Homo sapiens: one gene and its partners. The protein of the gene in region 2 binds, or shares a complex with, the protein of the main gene of each other region. Each region holds a gene or a part of one and is shown on either strand. Other genes may lie near its edges.

Region 1 (7,557 bases), on a different chromosome or scaffold from region 2:
CTGGCTGTCCTAACTTATTTCTGTGCCTCAGTTCTCCCATATGTAAGATCACAAAGGGGGTAAAGATGCAAGATATTTCCTGTGCACATCTTCAGATGAATTTCTTGTTAGTGTGTGTGTGTTTGCTCACACATATGCGTGAAAGAAGAGTACATACACAGATCTCCTCAAAAAGGAGGCAGCAAGCCCGTTCAAGAATGGGACTGAATACACCTGATGAGTGGTTTACTTTCTGTCTGCAAACATCTACTGATCATCTGTTAGGTGCAGGCCATGATCACAACAAAGACGAATAAGACACTACACTAGCCAGGGAGAGTCTCAAAAACAACTAAACTCAAATTAAATTCATTCTACTCCAGTCATGGGTACAAAGCTAAGGAGTGACAAATCCCTCTTGGAGTTAGGGGAGTCAGGAAAAAGCTCTTAGCAGAATGTGTGCCTCTCGGCCGGGCGCAGCGGCTCACGCCTGTAATCCCAGCACTTTGGGAGGCGAAGGCAGGCAGATCACCTGAGGTCGGGAGTTCGAGACCAGTCTGACCAACATGGTGAAACTCCATCTCTACTAAAAATACAAAATTAGCCAGGCGTGGTGGTGCAGGCCTGTAATCCCCGCTACTCGGGAGGCTGAGGAAGGAGAATCACTTGAACCGGGAAGGTGGAGGTTGCAGTGTGCCAAGATCGCGCCATGGCACTCCAGCCTAGGCAACGAGGGTGAACCAGGTCCAGGAAGAAGGTGCAAAGACAGCATTCCAGGTAAAAGAAACAGCTTGAACAAAAAGTGTGTAGGGGAACCGCAAGCGGTCTTGAGTGCTGAGGGTACAATCATCCTTGGGGAAGTACTAGAAGAAAGAATGATAAACAGAGGCCAGTTTGTTAAAAACACTCAAAATTAAAGCTAGGAGTTTGGACTTGTGGCAGGAATGAAATCCTTAGACCTGTGCTGTCCAATATGGTAGCCACCAGGCACATGCAGCCACTGAGCACTTGAAATGTGGATAGTCTGAATTGAGATGTGCCATAAGTGTAAAATATGCACCAAATTTCAAAGGCTAGAAAAAAAGAATGTAAAATATCTTATTATTTTATATTGATTACATGCTAAAATAACCATATTTGGGATATACTGGATTTTAAAAATATATCACTAATTTCATCTGTTTCTTTTTACTTTTAGAAATCACATATGTGACTTAAATATTTCTTTTCTTTTTCTTTCCTCTCACTCAGCGTCCTGTGATTCCAAAGAAATGAGTCTCTGCTGTTTTTGGGCAGCAGATATCCTAGAATGGACTCTGACCTAAGCATCAAAATTAATCATCATAACGTTATCATTTTATGGCCCCTTCTTCCTATATCTGGTAGCTTTTAAATGATGACCATGTAGATAATCTTTATTGTCCCTCTTTCAGCAGACGGTATTTTCTTATGCTACAGTATGACTGCTAATAATACCTACACATGTTAGAACCATTCTGACTCCTCAAGAATCTCATTTAACTCTTATTATCAGTGAATTTATCATCATCCCCTATTTTACATAAGGAAATGGGGTTAGAAAGACCAAATAACATTTTTTCAACATCAAAACACTAGCTTGAGATCAAGCCCAGACTTGGATCTGTCGTCTGAATTCCAAGCTTTTTGTTATTTATTGATATGTTTTGTTGTTTTCATGCAATAATGCAAATATTAGCCCAAACATTTTGTTAGTAGTACCAACTGTAAGTCACCTTATCTTCATACTTTGTCTTTATGTAAACCTAAATTAGATCTGTTTTTGATACTGAGGGAAAAACAAGGGAATCTAACACTAACCAGCCCGTAGTGTGTGGTCAACACTTTCGTTACTTTAGTATACATCACCCCAATTGTTTGTCTTCACCACACACTTTGGAGTTAGGTAGTAGTATCTATTTTTACAAATAAGAAAACCCAGGCACAAAGGGGTTGATTAGCAATTATCTTTTGAAAAGCCTGTAGTTGCTCATCTGAAGAAGTGACGGACCACCTCTTATTTAGTGGACAGACAGTAACTAGTTGAGAAGACAGGGGATTTTGTTGGCGGAAAAAAAATTTTATCAAAAGTCGTCTTCTATCAGGGAGTTTTATGAGAAACCCTAGCTCCTCAGTTCCACAGTGGGTAACTGTAATTCATTCTAGGTCTGCGATATTTCCTGCCTATCCATTTTGTTAACTCTTCAATGCATTCCACAAATACCTAAGTATTCTTTAATAATGGTGGGTTTTTTTTTTTTTTTGCATCTATGAAGTTTTTTCAAATTCTTTTTAAGTGACAAAACTTGTACATGTGTATCGCTCAATATTTCTAGTCGACAGCACTGCTTTCGAGAATGTAAACCGTGCACTCCCAGGAAAATGCAGACACAGCACGCCTCTTTGGGACCGCGGTTTATACTTTCGAAGTGCTCGGAGCCCTTCCTCCAGACCGTTCTCCCACACCCCGCTCCAGGGTCTCTCCCGGAGTTACAAGCCTCGCTGTAGGCCCCGGGAACCCAAAGCGGTGTCAGAGAAGTGGGGTCCCCTACGAGGGACCAGGAGCTCCGGGCGGGCAGCAGCTGCGGAAGAGCCGCGCGAGGCTTCCCAGAACCCGGCAGGGGCGGGAAGACGCAGGAGTGGGGAGGCGGAACCGGGACCCCGCAGAGCCCGGGTCCCTGCGCCCCACAAGCCTTGGCTTCCCTGCTAGGGCCGGGCAAGGCCGGGTGCAGGGCGCGGCTCCAGGGAGGAAGCTCCGGGGCGAGCCCAAGACGCCTCCCCGAGCGCGGCTCCAGGACCCCGTCGACCCGGAGCGCTGTCCTGTCGGGCCGAGTCGCGGGCCTGGGCACGGAACTCACGCTCACTCCGAGCTCCCGACGTGCACACGGCTCCCATCCGTTGTCTTCCGAGCGTCAGGCCGCCCCTACCCGTGCTTTCTGCTCTGCAGACCCTCTTCCTAGACCTCCGTCCTTTGTCCCATCGCTGCCTTCCCCTCAAGCTCAGGGCCAAGCTGTCCGCCAACCTCGGCTCCTCCGGGCAGCCCTCGCCCGGGGTGCGCCCCGGGGCAGGACCCCCAGCCCACGCCCAGGGCCCGCCCCTGCCCTCCAGCCCTACGCCTTGACCCGCTTTCCTGCGTCTCTCAGCCTACCTGACCTTGTCTTTACCTCTGTGGGCAGCTCCCTTGTGATCTGCTTAGTTCCCACCCCCCTTTAAGAATTCAATAGAGAAGCCAGACGCAAAACTACAGATATCGTATGAGTCCAGTTTTGTGAAGTGCCTAGAATAGTCAAAATTCACAGAGACAGAAGCAGTGGTCGCCAGGAATGGGGAAGCAAGGCGGAGTTGGGCAGCTCGTGTTCAATGGGTAGAGTTTCAGGCTGGGGTGATGGAAGGGTGCTGGAAATGAGTGGTAGTGATGGCGGCACAACGGTGTGAATCTACTTAATCCCACTGAACTGTATGCTGAAAAATGGTTTAGACGGTGAATTTTAGGTTATGTATGTTTTACCACAATTTTTAAAAAGCTAGTGAAAAGCTGGTAAAAAGAAAGAAAAGAGGCTTTTTTAAAAAGTTAAATATATAAAAAGAGCATCATCAGTCCAAAGTCCAGCAGTTGTCCCTCCTGGAATCCGTTGGCTTGCCTCCGGCATTTTTGGCCCTTGCCTTTTAGGGTTGCCAGATTAAAAGACAGGATGCCCAGCTAGTTTGAATTTTAGATAAACAACGAATAATTTCGTAGCATAAATATGTCCCAAGCTTAGTTTGGGACATACTTATGCTAAAAAACATTATTGGTTGTTTATCTGAGATTCAGAATTAAGCATTTTATATTTTATTTGCTGCCTCTGGCCACCCTACTCTCTTCCTAACACTCTCTCCCTCTCCCAGTTTTGTCCGCCTTCCCTGCCTCCTCTTCTGGGGGAGTTAGATCGAGTTGTAACAAGAACATGCCACTGTCTCGCTGGCTGCAGCGTGTGGTCCCCTTACCAGAGGTAAAGAAGAGATGGATCTCCACTCATGTTGTAGACAGAATGTTTATGTCCTCTCCAAATGCTTATGTTGAAACCCTAACCCCTAATGTGATGGTATGTGGAGATGGGCCTTTGGTAGGTAATTACGGTTAGATGAGGTCATGGGGTGGGGCCCTCATTATAGATCTGGTAAGAAAAGAGAGCATTGTCTCTGTGTCTCCCTCTCTCTCTCTCTCTCTCTCTCTCTCTCATTTCTCTCTATCTCATTTCTCTCTCTCTCTCTATCTCATTTTTCTCTCTCTCTCTTTCTCTCCTCTGTCTTTTCCCACCAAGTGAGGATGCGAAGAGAAGGTGGCTGTCTGCAAACCAGGAAGAGAGCCCTCACCAGGAACCTGTCCAGCTGCCACCTTGAACTTGGACTTCCAAGCCTCCAGAACTGTGAGGGATAAATGTATGATTTTAAAGTCGCCCAGTGTGTGGTATTTTGTTTTGACTAATACAACCTGAAAACATTTTCCCCTCACTCCACCTGAGCAATATCTGAGTGGCTTAAGGTACTCAGGACACAACAAAGGAGAAATGTCCCATGCACAACGTGCACCCATGCCTGGGTAAAGCAGCCTGGCACAGAGGGAAGCACACAGGCTCAGGGATCTGCTATTCATTCTTTGTGTGACCCTGGGCAAGCCATGAATGGAGCTTCAGTCACCCCATTTGTAATGGGATTTAATTGTGCTTGCCCTGCCTCCTTTTGAGGGCTGTAGAGAAAAGATGTCAAAGTATTTTGTAATCTGGCTGGGCGTGGTGGCTCATGCCTGTAATCCTAGCACTTTGGTAGGCTGACGCGAGAGGACTGCTTGAGCCCAAGAGTTTGAGATCAGCCTGGGCAATATTGTGAGATTCCATCTCTACAAAAATAAAATAAAATAGCCAGTCATGGTGTCACACACCTGTAGTCCCAGCTACATGGGAGGCTGAGGCGGGAGGATCACTTGAGCTTGGGAGATCGAGGCTGCAGTGAGCTATGATTGTACCACTGCACTCCAGGCTGGGCGACAGAGAGAGACCCTGTCTCAGAAAAAAAAAAAAAAGTACTTTGTAATCTGTAAGGTTTATTTCAACACACACAAAAAAAGTGTATATGCTCCACGATGCCTGTGAATATACACACACACCACATCATATACCAAGCCTGGCTGTGTCTTCTCACAAATGCACTGCTAGGCACCACCCCCAGTTCTAGAATCACACCAGCCAGTTCACCCTCCAGATGGTTCACCCTCAACTTCATAAAAGTTCCCTACCTAATCTACTGACAGGCTCATCCCCGACCTAATTTTAAAGATTTCCTAGGAGCTGCAATGGGAATCCTGGACCTCAGCCTGGACAAAGAACAGCTGCAGGTCATTCTCATGTGTGGACACAGAAGCTCTGCCTGCCTTTGCTGGCCAGCTGGGCTGAGCGGGCCTGGGAATTAAGGCTGCAGGGTTGGTCCCAGGCAGTCTTGCTGAAGCTTGCCACATCCCCCAGCCTCCTGGATTTGCCAGGATCCAAGAGCATGGACTTTAGGAATTCCTGGTGGAGGAGTGAAGAAAATGTGACAGGGTGTCCTAAGCCCCGATCTACAGGAAGAAAACTGGAAATAAGACTGAGGACTTAGTTTAAGATGTTCCTACTCAGCCTCTAGCTTTTGTGCTACAGTTCTGGGAACAGACTCCTCTCTCCTGAAAACCACTTCCCTCCGCAGCATTAAATTTCACCAAGATGTCTTGCTTGTGGGAAAGACTTCCAAGGATGCCTGGAGAGAGGAGGATGGAAATGTCCTGCTCTCTAAACAGATAGACAGATGCAGCCAGACAGAAAATAGTTTATCTTGCTGAGGTTTCTAATGTATTTGAAAGAGGCCTGGGTCTAGAAGTCTACCCAGAGGGCTCTGTGTTGTGCACGCAAAGATAAGAACCTTCCCTGTGGGAGTTCCAGAGCCAATTTTCCTAAACACCCATCGGTGACTGTGTTCAGAGTGAGTTCACACCATCCTGACCTGCCCTGAGTTAGACCTTACATGGTCTTCCTCCTCTAGGAAGCCTCTGCAGCCCAGGAACCTCCCCTTATCGGAAATGAACAGCATTTGAAGCTTCACCCGACAGACCAGACAGCTTAGCCCTCGTGTTGTGCCATGTGGGTTGTTCTCTGAGAGGCAGGAGAGCATAGTGGTTACTAGGAAGGGAAGGACTTTGGGACTAGACTGCCTCGGCTGGAGTCCTCTTTCTGCTTCATAGCCACGTGATCCTAGGCATGTTACCTGTGCCTCAGTTTTCACTCTGTCAATATGTAATAACTGAATCTGTCTTTGTGGTGAGGATTCAGTGAGTTAACATATTTGAAGTGCTTAAAAATGAGGCTTGTGTCCATAGATTAATGAGTGAATACACAAATGGTGATATGGACATACAGTGGAGTATTAGTCATAAAAAGGAAGGCAGAGCTGATCCATGGCACCATGTGACAGAACCTCAAAAGCATTAGGTTAAGTGGAAGAAGCCAGACACAGGTCACCTATTGTGTAATTCCATTTATAGGAAATATACAGAATATGTAAATCCGTGGAGAAAGAAAGCCGATTTCCAGGGGCTAAGGGGAGGGGAGAATGGGAAGTGGCTGCTTCATGGGTACAAGGTTTCATTTTGAGCTGATGAAAATGTTTTGGAACTACATAGAGATAGTGTTGGCACAACATGGTGAATGTACTGAATGCCACTGATTGTTCACTTTAAAATGGCCAAACTTATATGAATTTCACCTCCATTAAAAAAAAAAAAAAAGGACCAGATGTGGTTGCTCACACCCATAATCCCAACACTTTGGAAAAAGGTGAAAGTTTTTTTTTCTTTTTTTTTTTTATATACTTAAGTTCTAGGGTACATGTGCATAATGTGCAGGTTGGATACATAGATATGCGTGTGCCATGTTGGTTTGCTGCACCCATCAACTTGTCATTTACATTAGGTATTTCTTCTAATGCTATCCCTCCCCCAGCCCCCCACCCACTGACAGGCCCCAGTGTATGATGTTCTCTGCCCCATGTCCAAGCGTTCTCATTGTTCAATTCCCACCTGTGAGTGAGAACATGCAGTGTTTGGTTTTCTGTCTTTGTGATAGTTTGCTCAGAATGATGGTTTCCAGCTTCATCCATGTCCCTGCAAAGGACATGAACTCATCCTTTTTAATGGCTGCATAGTATCCCATGGTATATATGTGCCACATTCTCTTAATCCAGTCTGTCATTGATGGACATTTGGGTTGGTTCAAAGTCTTTGCTATTGTGAATACTGCCACAATAAACATACATGTGCATGTGTCTTTATAGTAGCACGATTTATAATCCTTTGGGTATATACCCTAAGACCTGGGACGCATTTAAAGCAGTGTGTAAAGAGACATTTATAGCACTAAATGCCCACAAGAGACCTCTGCCTGAGAACGTGGGTTTCAGCCTAAGAGTTGTAATATGTGTGCCCATTCACAGGTGCTGCATCAGAGTCCCAGGTGGGAAGAAGGCAAGCATACACAAAAATGGTAAAAGGCAGAA
Region 2 (4,683 bases):
TTTCTACCAGAAATGTCTTTAACAACTCATGATATGAATCCATATACTTTTCATGCTAAAATATTCACAAAAATTGAATAATTCACTTAGCCAAATTCACTGTTTTTTTTTTTTTTTTGCATTGGGTCTACTATTGATCACTAAACTCACACTGACTTCATTTAAAATTGCTCATTGCATCTCTTTTTATTTTTAAGACAGAGTTTCACTCTTGTCGCCATGGCTGGAGTGCAATGACGCAATCTCAGCTCACTGAAACCTTTACCTTCTGGGTTCAAGTGATTCTCCTGCCTCAGCTTCCCGAGTAGCTGGGATTACAGGCACCTGCCACTACGCCCAGCTAATTTTTGTCACCACGCCCAGCTACTTTTTGTATTTTTAGTAGAGATGGAGGTTTCACCATGTTGGCCAGGCTGGTCTTGAACTCCTGACCTCAGGTTATCCACTCGCCTCGGCCTCCCAAAGTGCTGGGATTACAGGCGTGAGCCACCGTGCCTGACTGTAATTGCTCATTGCATCTCTAAAATATTCTATCTTAGTATTTGTAGCACTAATTGTACTTTATTTAGGTTATCCTATTTTTCATTTTGAGGCCCTTTATTTTAGCAACAAGACATACTGGCAGGTTAAAACTGCTTTATTATTATTTTTTTAACATAGAAGAAGCTTGGTAGTGGACATGTGGCCATTTGATGTTTTTATGACTAAGAGAGTTCAGGCTCAATCTCTTACAGAATGTAAATGTACCCCTATGCATGCATATGTAATTCTTATCAAAATTAAGCTTAATCACTAAAAGAAGATTCGCTATCTGAACTTTCTTCTACAGTTTTCTCACTTTCGCCATCAGGCACTGGAGCATCTGGCCTCCTAAAAGAAAAGAAAAAAAAATTTCAAAGGTCTTTTCCAATTGAAAAGAGCACTTACAAACTCTTAAATTTGGTTCATCTTAGAATATTGCTGCTAATAAATCTGCCAAGTCCGTGTCCTCAGTCTCCTGCTCTACACCACAGCGTGCTTCTCTCGGGCTTCTTGGGCACCATGGGGATTCAATGCTATGCCTGTAGAGGCCGCGACAGTATTTTCTCTTGCCAGTCCTTACATAGTGCGCTACTTCAGCACTTTCTGCTTCTCATTACCATGGAGACCCAATTATAGACAGAGATGTGATCTGTAGAGGCTGGCATGACCAGTGCTAAGTCCCTGAAGCTTCCAAGTGTACATGAGGTACAGAGAAAGGAAAGCTAGAAATGAAAAGAAAAGGAAATGCTTCATGTTCAGGAAAGCTGCAGGGAGAAACTTAGAAATGGAAGAGAGTTCAAAAATGGCTAATAAAAAAATAGGTAATGTGGAAATTTTGTAGCGAAGGAGAGTGCCTGGTCGAAGAAGGTTCTTAATGTTTGTTAAACGTTTTCACTTACATGTTTTATCTTTACAGAATGAAAATAGAAAGTATGAGTTGGCAAAAATACTGTTTCAAAGATCCCCTAGGCATTATAAGGAGACATGAGAATGGTTAGATTCCAACTTTGCATGGATGTGCTCTAATAAACCAAAATGAAATTTTAATGATGTTATTAAAACAGTCAACTAGTTAAGCCTCAATAGTTTTGTGCCAGTAAGTCATTTAATCAGTGTAGTGGCATTATCACTTAGCCTCTATTCACTCTTACCAAGAAAGTAAATTAAGCAAGAAAAGTATTTTTGGGGGGGAAACCAAGAGGAAAAGGAGTAACAATATAACTGCTACATCTTTTTTTTTTTTTTTTTTTTTTTTTGAGATGGAGTCTCGCTCTTGTCACCAGGCTGAAGTGCAATGGTGTGATCTCGGCTCACTGCAACCTCTGTCTCCCAGGTTCAAGCCATCCTCTTGCCTCAGCCTCCCGAGTAGAGGTGTGTGCCACCACGCCCAGCTAATTTTTGTATTTTCAGTAGAGACGGGATTTCACCATGTTGGCCAGGATGGTCTTGATCTCCTGACCCTGTGATCCACCCGCTCTGGCCTCCCAAAGTGCTGGGATTATAGATGCGAGCCCGTGCCTGGCCTATAACTGCTGTATCTTAATAATTACAAACTACCAGACTGATTTCTCCCTCAGGCTTGACTCTTATTAAACATTTAGGACACTTAAAAATAAAACTCATATTCACCACAAACAGAAATTACTATTACTAAAATAAGAAAATGCACAGTCTAACAGTTACTTTAGGTATTAAAATTATGGCTTATATTTTTAAATATATTTGGCATACTACAAAAGAGAAAATAATGCTGGCATTGCTCCCTAGTTGTCAAATATAAACCCATTTGCTCTGCTGAACAATTTTAGATTATATCTACAAGGAAGCATTATGTAGTCAATACAGTGAAACTTTAAAGCTGGGTACAGCAGTTCCAGGATTTGACTGATGCTCCATCTGCCTAAAATACTAACATGGGACCATCATCTTCCTCCCTTTTCATTAGAAGCAACAACTCTAGAATTAGTGGGTATGAATACTAGGCACATTTTACCCAGTAAATTTCTCTTTGCTATATATTTGATTTCTTACTGTCTATACTTTGTTAAGTAGGAAAACATTACCAGTGGGAATTATTTTAATACCACATCAAAATTGTATTAGTACCTATGACAACTCAAACAAATACAACAATGTACATAACTTCCTAAAATAAATGCTACTTTAGAAAAGGGTAGGCCAGGGATGTCGATTCATGCCTGTAATCCCAGCACTTTGGGAGGCCGAAGAGGGCGTTTTGCTTGAGCCCAGCAGTTCAAGACCAGCCTGGGCAACAGGGCAAAACACCATCCTTTGCAAAAAAATAGAGAAATTAGCCAGTAGTGGCCTACTGTGCCAGCTACTTTGGAGGCTGAGGTGTATCACTTGAGCCTGGGGGCAGAGGCTGCAGTAAGCTGTGACCATGCCTGGGCACTCCAATCTGGGCAACAGAGTGAAACCCTGTCTCAAAAAAAAAAGGAAAAGGGTAAAAGCAGCTTAGGACCAGAAGAAACTGAAACTATAAAATTCATTAATTTATGTGTGTAACCATTTATTGATACATGTGATGCTATATTACATAGTAACTAAGAATATAGGCTCTGGGTACAGACTGTGCTAAAATCCCATCCTTGTTTCTTACTTGTTGGCCAACTTTGGGGAAGCTATTTAACTACTTTGTGTCTGACTGATTGATTGGATTTTGTGATGATTAAATTAATTAATAAATGTAAAGTGTGTTCGATAATATCTGGCACATAGTATCAGATAAATATTATCTGCTGTTATTATGATGATTTATTTTCATCATCATGCATCTACTATTTGCTAGAAAATGTGTTAGGTACTGGAGATACAGAGATGAATAACAAGTAGTTCCTTCCCTGAAGCAGCTAAAATTTTTGTGAGGGAGACAGAAATGCAAACAAATTGTTACAGAATGTGAGACAGCCATGTGCCACATAATGATGTTTCAATCAGTGATGAACTGCATAGGACGGTGGTCCCATTAGATTATAATGGAGCTGAGAAACCTCTATCGCCTAGTATTTACTATACTGTACTTTCTGTTATTTTATTTTATTTGACCAGAAGTCTCATTCTGTTGCCCAGTCTGGAGAGTAGTAGTGTGATCTCGGCTCACTGAAACCTCTGCCTTCTGGGTTCAAGAGATTCTCCTGTCTCAGTCTCCTGAGTAGCTGAGACTACAGGCATGCGCCACCACCCCTGGCTAATTTTTTTACTTTTGGTAGAGAGCGGGTTTCACCATGTTGGCCAGGCTGGTCTTGAACTCCTGACCTCAAGTGATCCATCTGCCTCAGCCTCCCAAAGTGCTGGGATTACAGGCGTGAGCCACAGCGTCCAGCCTCTGTTGTTATTTCATTTTATTTTATATTTTTTTCAACAGAGTCTTGCTCTGTCACCCAGGCTAGGGTGCAGTGGTGCAATCTTGGCTCACTGCAATCTCTACCTCCAGGGTTCAAGCCATCCTCCTGCCTCAGCCTCCTGAGTAGCTGGGATTACAGGCATGCACCACCATGCCCAGCTAATTTTTGTATTTTTAGTAGTGATGGGGTTTCTCCATGTTGGCCAGGCTGGTCTCGAACTCCTGACCTCAGGTGATGCACCTGCCTCAGCCTCCTAAAGTGTTGGGATTACAGGTGTAAGCCACTGTGCCTGGCCTCTGTTGTTATTTTAGAGGGTACTCCTACTTACTTTTTGAAAAAAAAGTTAACGTTAAACAGCCTCAGGGAGGTCCTTCAGGAGATATTCCAGAAGAAGGCATTGTTACAATAGAAAATAGCAGATTCATGCCTGTTATTGCCCCTGAAGACCTTTTAGTCAGACAGGATATGGAGAACAGTCATATTGATGATCCTGACATGACTAGGCCTTGTATGTGTTTTAGTTTTTGGCAAAGAAGTTTAAGAAGTCAAAATAAAAAGTTCATAGAATAAAGATATAAAGAAAGAAAATATTTTTGTATAGCTGTAAAATTTATGACTTGTCTTTTAAGCTAAGTAGTATTACAAAATAGTTAAAAAGGTAAAAAGTTGATAAAGTTATAGTAAGCTAAGGTTAATTTATTATTGAAAAAATTTTTAAAAATAAATTTAGTGTAGTCTAAGTGTACAGTGTTTATGAAATTTACAGTGGTGTATAATAACATCCTAGGCCTTCATA
Region 3 (7,031 bases), 3.1 Mb from region 2:
TAAGTTTTTATTATAACTTTTATCATATTCTAATCTAAAAATTTGTTTACACATTTTTTCTCCCAGAGGATATTACATGAGCTGGGACTATTTATATTTATCTTTGTATTCCTAAACATAGTTCAGTGCCTAGCATGTTCTCAATAAATATCAGATATATAAATGAATAAATGAAAGGATATACAAAATAAATGAAAGGATATACAAACTGATCCTAGAAATAATCCCTACATGCAGCAAGATAAAGGGAAAACTAGAATCCTCAAATTTTAGAACTGAATAAATGTTTTTTGGTAAATATTATCTGGATCATCTTAAAGAGAACTCCACGCAAATTATCTGATAACATAAATTATTACATTCATGAGACAATGCCATACTGTACATTAACTAATTGAATTAGCAAAGCTAAATGTTTTCCTATACTCCTCATTTTAAGAACAAAAAACACATTTGTAATCATGTAAATTTAACCATTTTTCCTAAGATACTAAATTTTATATACTATAACCAGGCTTAAAATCCTTAAATGTGACTTTGAACTTCTTAAAATTCTACAGAAGTCACTTCACTATTCTAGTGTTTCTGAAAAGCTGTATATAAATATAAATATATATGTATATCTCGAATGCTCAACAGAAGGCTGAATATAAGCAGGACCCCGGTGGTAAATTCCTTTATAAAGCAATTTAGCAGCACCTAATTTTTTACTGTTGTCAAGTATAAGATTTTATATGGCAAATAATTTCTTAAAAAATAAGCACATACTAACTAAAGCAAAAAGAAAAAAGACTTCCTTAAAAAGTACTGTTACAGCCAACAGTCACAGTATGCTAAAAAAAACATTTTATACTATACCTGTTCCAAAGTCTGACTGGGAAGATGTGCCTCTGTCATAACCAGTCCATAACGCTGAGTAGCTAAGTTTCTCATCTCACTATAAGTGGCCCAGTCATGAAGGGCTACAGTTGTTAGATTGTAGAAAGTCTTGTCTAGGTAGTGAGTTACGTAAGCTACCAAAAAAAAAAAATTCAACTTGTGAAACAGTAGAAAAGGAAAAGAAATGAAACCTAAAAGGAAAAAACAACAACTTGTCCTTGAACATCAGATTTGTTCCTTTAAAATAAGGTATTAATAAAAATGAGAAAAGAAACAAAATGTAATTAAAGAATAACAACACAAAATTTAAATATACCCTCAAAGTTTTGTTTAACAGTAGGGTAAAAAAAAAAAAAAAAGAGAATATGACTCTAAGAAGGAAAGCAAAACACTCACCCCGAATGTCAATGAAACGATTGAAAAACCGAATTGGATTCAGAGAGAAAAAAAGAGCCAGGTCTTTCATGCCAACTTTGAAAGGGTTTCGGTCATCCAGCTTTAAATGAGTATGCACAGAAAGTCGCAGATCTTTCTCTATTTCTTTGCATAATTTGTCCAGCAAATGCTATTCACAAAAGATTTGATACTTTAATTTTTCAAAATGATATTGCAATTGTATTGTTTCCCTACATGTCTATGCTCCATTTTAAACCAATAGTTTTTTGGTCAGAAGCAGTTACATAAATTCTAAGTCTTTATTTTCACCAATACCTTAAGGTTAATACTCTTGAAAAGAAAATCTAAAACTAATGATTGATGGTACCATCATAAGGAACATGAATATGCAACTTAAAGCATAAAATTTATGGAAACCAGCAACAAAGGAGGAAAGGGCATGAGAACAGGCAAGAGAGAAAAGAAAAAAGCTTCCTTGTAATAACTGTTAAAAAAAAAATCACAAAATTCATTGTGCTAAAGGTAATAAAATTAATCATCTTTTCTGGTCTACCAAGGAGTTCTAAATTACTATCCAGGCATGTATTTTATTTCCTAAATAAGAATACGTAATACAAGAAATTATAAAAAGTTTTTCACAATTTCATCAAACCCAGGTAGGATTATATTGTGAAATTTCCTCATTTTTAATTCCTCCCTCCAAATAAAAATATCACTAAATGGAAATTTAATTTTAAAGATATCAGTGTTTATAATACATATTTCCTTAACAAAAGGAGGGGCATACATATTGGATTCAAATTACTTTTGTTACACACTAAATCTTTTAAATATATAATTTCCTTCTCTCAGGAGCTCTGCAAATAAAATTCAGTAAAATATTAATGGTTAAGTTGCTTTAACTGGACCATTAGCAGCTTTCAACATTCAAAACCATTTCACATTTGCATTCTTCTAATAAACAACTTTAAATTAAAATATCTATTTACAAAAGTAAATTTAAAATCTCCTAATTCCTAGTGTGATTTCTAAATAAATGAATTACAGACCAATTAGCACAACAGTGATATTGTAACTAAAAATAGTTCTTTGTTCTACCCAGCAATTTATAAATAATTTTAACTCAGTGAGTCTGCTTCAATCGAACATTTTTTTTCCAAACACTACATTCCAAACATGTTTTAAGCTTTTCAATCTCAAATATGATGTTACCTCATTTAAAATTTCCATAATTTCCTTGTCATAGCAATCCAGAAGTATCTCATAGGACTCTAAATGCCTTGCATGCATCATAGCAGGTACACAGTCGCGCAAAGCACTGAACATGTACTAAGAAGAAAATTAAAATGTACATGAATTTAGAAAAACCAGGTCTCTAATCTAAACAATACTGCAAAAGTTAATTATCTTGAAAGACAAAACCTCGATCTGAAGGAAAAATGATTTTCCACAACTGTCTTAACTTTCCTAAAGAAAAAGAACCTAAAGCATATACTTTAACTAAATATACCCAAAAAAAATCACATTCGCTAGTCCTTTCCTATCTTGTGCATTTAAACACACTTATTTCCATAAAGAAAAATATGAATATTTCTTAAAAATATTTTTTCTTTTGCATTGTAATTTGCTGATGAGTAAATGTCAGATTACTATGACATAAACTAAAATTAAGTGAAATGAAAATGATTAGGAACATGAAGGAAGAAATTAAATAAATTAACTTCGTTAACAGTAACATAAAATTTAACTACAGACTATAAACACTTTATGAATATGCAGTTTACAAAACAGTCAATTTTAAAAGTTTATTAAATCAAATGATCTATTTTAAACTAAAACGGTTTACACAGTGACTTTTAAAATGATAGAATTATTCTTTATATTGTTCTTTACTTACATGTAATCTGGCTGCATCAACAGCATTTTCATATACATCATCTAAATAAATTGGGAAGACAGCTCGATGCCAGTATAAAAAACAACAGTCACATTGTGTTTGGACTCTACAATGTAAAGTAGTAATCAGTCACACCAAAACTGAAGAATCCCAAAACAATATGAAAGGAATGACATCTACTACAGAAGGAAGAGTTCCATCTTACACAGTTCGCATTCCCTACATCACTTAACCCAACATAGTATAGAAAAGTCACAAAAGAAATACTATCAAAATGAAACAAAGGTAACAAACACTCCAATGCCTGACATTGTCAGAATTCTGCACATATGCTTTTGTAAACCATACTTGAAAAATGATATGCATAATATTCAAATATCAGAGTTTAAAATAAACATTTATTGACCATTTTTGGTTTTGGTAAATAAAAACAAACTCATTTTCAATATTATTTGCTATGACTAGACTTAAATACTTGCATCACATGCTCCATTTTCCCTGACTCTAAGTTGGAAAGAAAAATCTTTTAAAAAAAAAAAATTGTGACCCCCCCCGCCCCAAAAAAAAACCCACACTTAACATGTCTACAATCTTTGCCAAGTGACTATTTCACACCTTAAAGGGCAACAGAATGATCATTAACTATCTTATAATGAAAAAGGCTCAATATTTCTTCCAAGAGTGGAAAATTAAATGCCAATAACAAGAAAAATGTCAGCTTCTCCAGAACAACAAAAAAGTAAGTTATAAATATGAATACTAAATGGAAATTGTGCTGTAACCTTAATTCAGCTGGAAACCAAAATTCAAATTTCCCTTCAAGAAATTTACGCTTACTCAACAAAAAGAAAACAAGAAAGCCAGAAGGAGCTACAAAAATAAGCCTTCCAAAAACTAATTCAACAATGTTAATTCAAATTCGTGTCTTAAAATAAAATCATAGAACACTACGTATCATGGATTGCTAAGTCTCACACAAATAGAGGAAGCCCTGTTATAATACAGCAATTTAAGTCCAATAAAGATACCCAACATAATAATCACGATATGCATCAAAGTCGGCCAGATGCTCTGAGGTTGCACTGCTTTTTCTCATGTGAGTTTTTCTAGGGGCTACATGCTTCCTGTAGAAGCAAAGCTAAATAAATATGATCCCTAGTCACAATCTCATTTTGGTCATGCTAAAGAAGTTACAGAAAGGAACTAATGCTCGATCTGAATTTTATTTCTTCTCTTGCTATGCTAAAAAGAAAATCAATGTTTCTATTAACCCTGTCTTTGGAGTACCACAGCATATCCCAGTCCTACTTACCGTTCTCTAAGTTCACTAATAAGATCCAGTTTTTTCATGACTACTTGAAGTGGAAAGAGTTCTTCATCTTTAAATGTTTTCTATCAGGGACAGGAAAAAAAGGCAGAGAAGTTGCAGTCAAAGGTTTCTAGGGTCAGTAACAAGGGAACTGTGAAATCTCAGATCTCATTTCTGTTCCATAAGTAATAGCAATACACTTACCATTTGTGTGCCAACACTTAGTGCCAAAGAAACAATAAGTCGCCGTTGCTTTGTGCTTGGTCCATTTAGAGTGTTTTCAGCCAAAACTAGAGCAGAGAGCACATCAAGACGCTGTTCGCTGTATTTTTTGTCAGAAATCACTCTTTTCTTAAAAATAAAACAGGAAAACTATTTGTTTCTGAGGCAGTAACAAAAGACTCAGAAGAAAAACTTCTTGATTATCTTTTCCATGATTCAATTTAAGAGAGCATACACAAATACTTTCCCCATTTAAGCTTCTGACATTTATACTTTACTTCTGTAATATGATCCCTTAGTACTGTCAGAAACAGCAAATGTATTAGGCATACTTTAAAATTTCCATGTTAATTTACTAAGAAATCATTTTTTAAATGATGCATCAATTTCAAAAGTGCAATGTCTTTTTAGAAGTGTATTAATGTATTACATGCTGCAATTTCACAGTAAAGATAATGCCAATAACTTGAAGTAAAAATTGTAAAATACTATGGAGATAAATAACCGAGCATATTATGTTTGAAGGAATGGAATAAACAGGTTAAACCAGAAAACACATATAAAACAATGAAAGAACAAACAAAAAAGATAACATACTTATGCTAAATACATAATAAGCTGCATACCTTGGCCACAGAAATAGAATGAAGAGCCTGATGTTGAAGGTGCTGTGTTATATGTGAAACTGAATCAGCCACAACCATGCTTCTCCTGTAGAACATATGCTCTATTGCCTAAAAAGAATCAGAAATAATTTTCTGACAATCAACTTAAAAATTTCAGGCAAAATTATAGAAGATCTTTACGACCTTAGGCTAGGGAAGGGATTTGTAAATGAGATACAAAAAAACCTTACAGTCCTGGCGTGGTGGCTCACGCCTGTAATCCCAGCACTTTGGGAGGTCGAGGCAGGTGGATCACCAGGTCAGGAGTTCGAGACCAGCCTGGCCAACATAGTGAAACCCTGTCTCTACTAAAAAATACAAAAATTAGCCGGGCATGGTGGCGCACACCTGTAGTTCCTGTAGCTGAGGCAGAATCGCTTGAACCTGGGAGGCGGAGGTTGAGGTGAGCCGAGATGGCGCCACTGCACTCCAGCCTGGGCAACTGAGCAAGACTCCGTCTCAAAAAAAAAAAAAAACTTACAAAGTATAGAACTGATAAATTCAACTATACTAAAACTAAGCACTTCTGTTCATCAAAAGTCTCTATAAAGAAAATAAAAAGGCAAGCCGATGTATCACAAAATATCTACCAGGTACAAGTGACTAATGTTCAGGATATAAGAAGACCCAAAATGAATGAAAGATTTTGTTTTTTAAAGGCACACAATCCAATAAAAAAAATGGAAAAGACATGAACAGATTTTTCACAAAAGAAGAAACATAGTTAATAAATAATTGAAAGGATATTTACCATCACTAACAATCAGGGGTTAAATATTAAAAATCATAAAACCAATTATACCCACTAATTTATTTTAAAAAATGAAGCTCGATAATACCAGTGTTGGTCAATTGGAAATACAATTTTATTTCTAATGTAATTTTCTAATGTATTGTGGGAGGCATATATATATATATATATATATATATATATATACACACACACATATATATAGTCTGTCTATAGAGACAATGTGACATCATCTTGAAAAGGTGAACATATACGTAACACATAATCCAGTAACCAACTTTAGGTATATAATTCCTTACAAAAACTCCTGCACAAGTACACCAAGAAACACATACAAGGATGGCAACATTGTTTATGATACAAAAACCGGAAACAACCCGAAGTCTATCCACTACACAACAATGAAAATAGATGTGCTACTCATCCCAACATGGATACCCTCAAATACAAAATGCTGAGTAAAAAACAAAATGTTGAATAAAAAAATGGATCAAAAAATACATAAAATACTGCTCCACTAATATAAACTTCAAAAACATATATAACGATTAATGCTTTATTGATTCATCCATATTTGGCAAGCTAAAAAGAAAAACAAGAGAATGATAAACATAAAATTCAGGACAGTAGTTTCCTCTGAGGTGGACAGGTTGAGATGCAATTAGGAAAAAACACAGCATTTGAAAATATTGGTAACATTCTATTTCTTAAGTGGGACAGTGGGTATTTCTTAAGTGGGACAGTGGTTATTATTTTTAAAACCATGCTTATGTATTACATATTTATACATATTCTAACATACACATATACTTGTCTGTATTTATAGTTCATAAAAAATAAATCTAACATAAAATATCTATAAACAAATCATACAAAGAAAAAAAGGCTGAAAATCCAAAGGCAGAATCTCCA

Evidence for each region. Proteins that work in one complex are often made in the same cells at the same time.
Region 1: WASHC3 (region 2) and WASHC1 share a complex: the UniProt entries of both Homo sapiens proteins name them as parts of the WASH core complex.
Region 3: WASHC3 (region 2) and WASHC4 share a complex: the UniProt entries of both Homo sapiens proteins name them as parts of the WASH core complex.

Annotation. Positions count from the first base shown.
Region 1 is NC_000009.12:26,457-34,013, forward strand, and holds the start of WASHC1 (WASH complex subunit 1), read right to left. Parts: upstream 3,001-7,557; 5' UTR 2,893-3,000; coding exon of another isoform or gene 2,856-2,892; intron 2,778-2,855; exon of another isoform or gene 1,200-2,777; coding exon of another isoform or gene 1,198-1,199; exon of another isoform or gene 1-1,197. UniProt on the Homo sapiens protein: Acts as a component of the WASH core complex that functions as a nucleation-promoting factor (NPF) at the surface of endosomes, where it recruits and activates the Arp2/3 complex to induce actin polymerization, playing a key role in the fission of tubules that serve as transport intermediates during endosome sorting.
Region 2 is NC_000012.12:102,012,323-102,017,005, forward strand, and holds the end of WASHC3 (WASH complex subunit 3), read right to left. Parts: intron 871-4,683; coding exon 786-870; 3' UTR 518-785; downstream 1-517. UniProt on the Homo sapiens protein: Acts as a component of the WASH core complex that functions as a nucleation-promoting factor (NPF) at the surface of endosomes, where it recruits and activates the Arp2/3 complex to induce actin polymerization, playing a key role in the fission of tubules that serve as transport intermediates during endosome sorting.
Region 3 is NC_000012.12:105,138,700-105,145,730, reverse strand, and holds part of WASHC4 (WASH complex subunit 4), read right to left. Parts: intron 5,438-7,031; coding exon 5,330-5,437; intron 4,833-5,329; coding exon 4,686-4,832; intron 4,565-4,685; coding exon 4,485-4,564; intron 3,279-4,484; coding exon 3,173-3,278; intron 2,605-3,172; coding exon 2,488-2,604; intron 1,445-2,487; coding exon 1,276-1,444; intron 1,014-1,275; coding exon 859-1,013; intron 1-858. UniProt on the Homo sapiens protein: Acts as a component of the WASH core complex that functions as a nucleation-promoting factor (NPF) at the surface of endosomes, where it recruits and activates the Arp2/3 complex to induce actin polymerization, playing a key role in the fission of tubules that serve as transport intermediates during endosome sorting.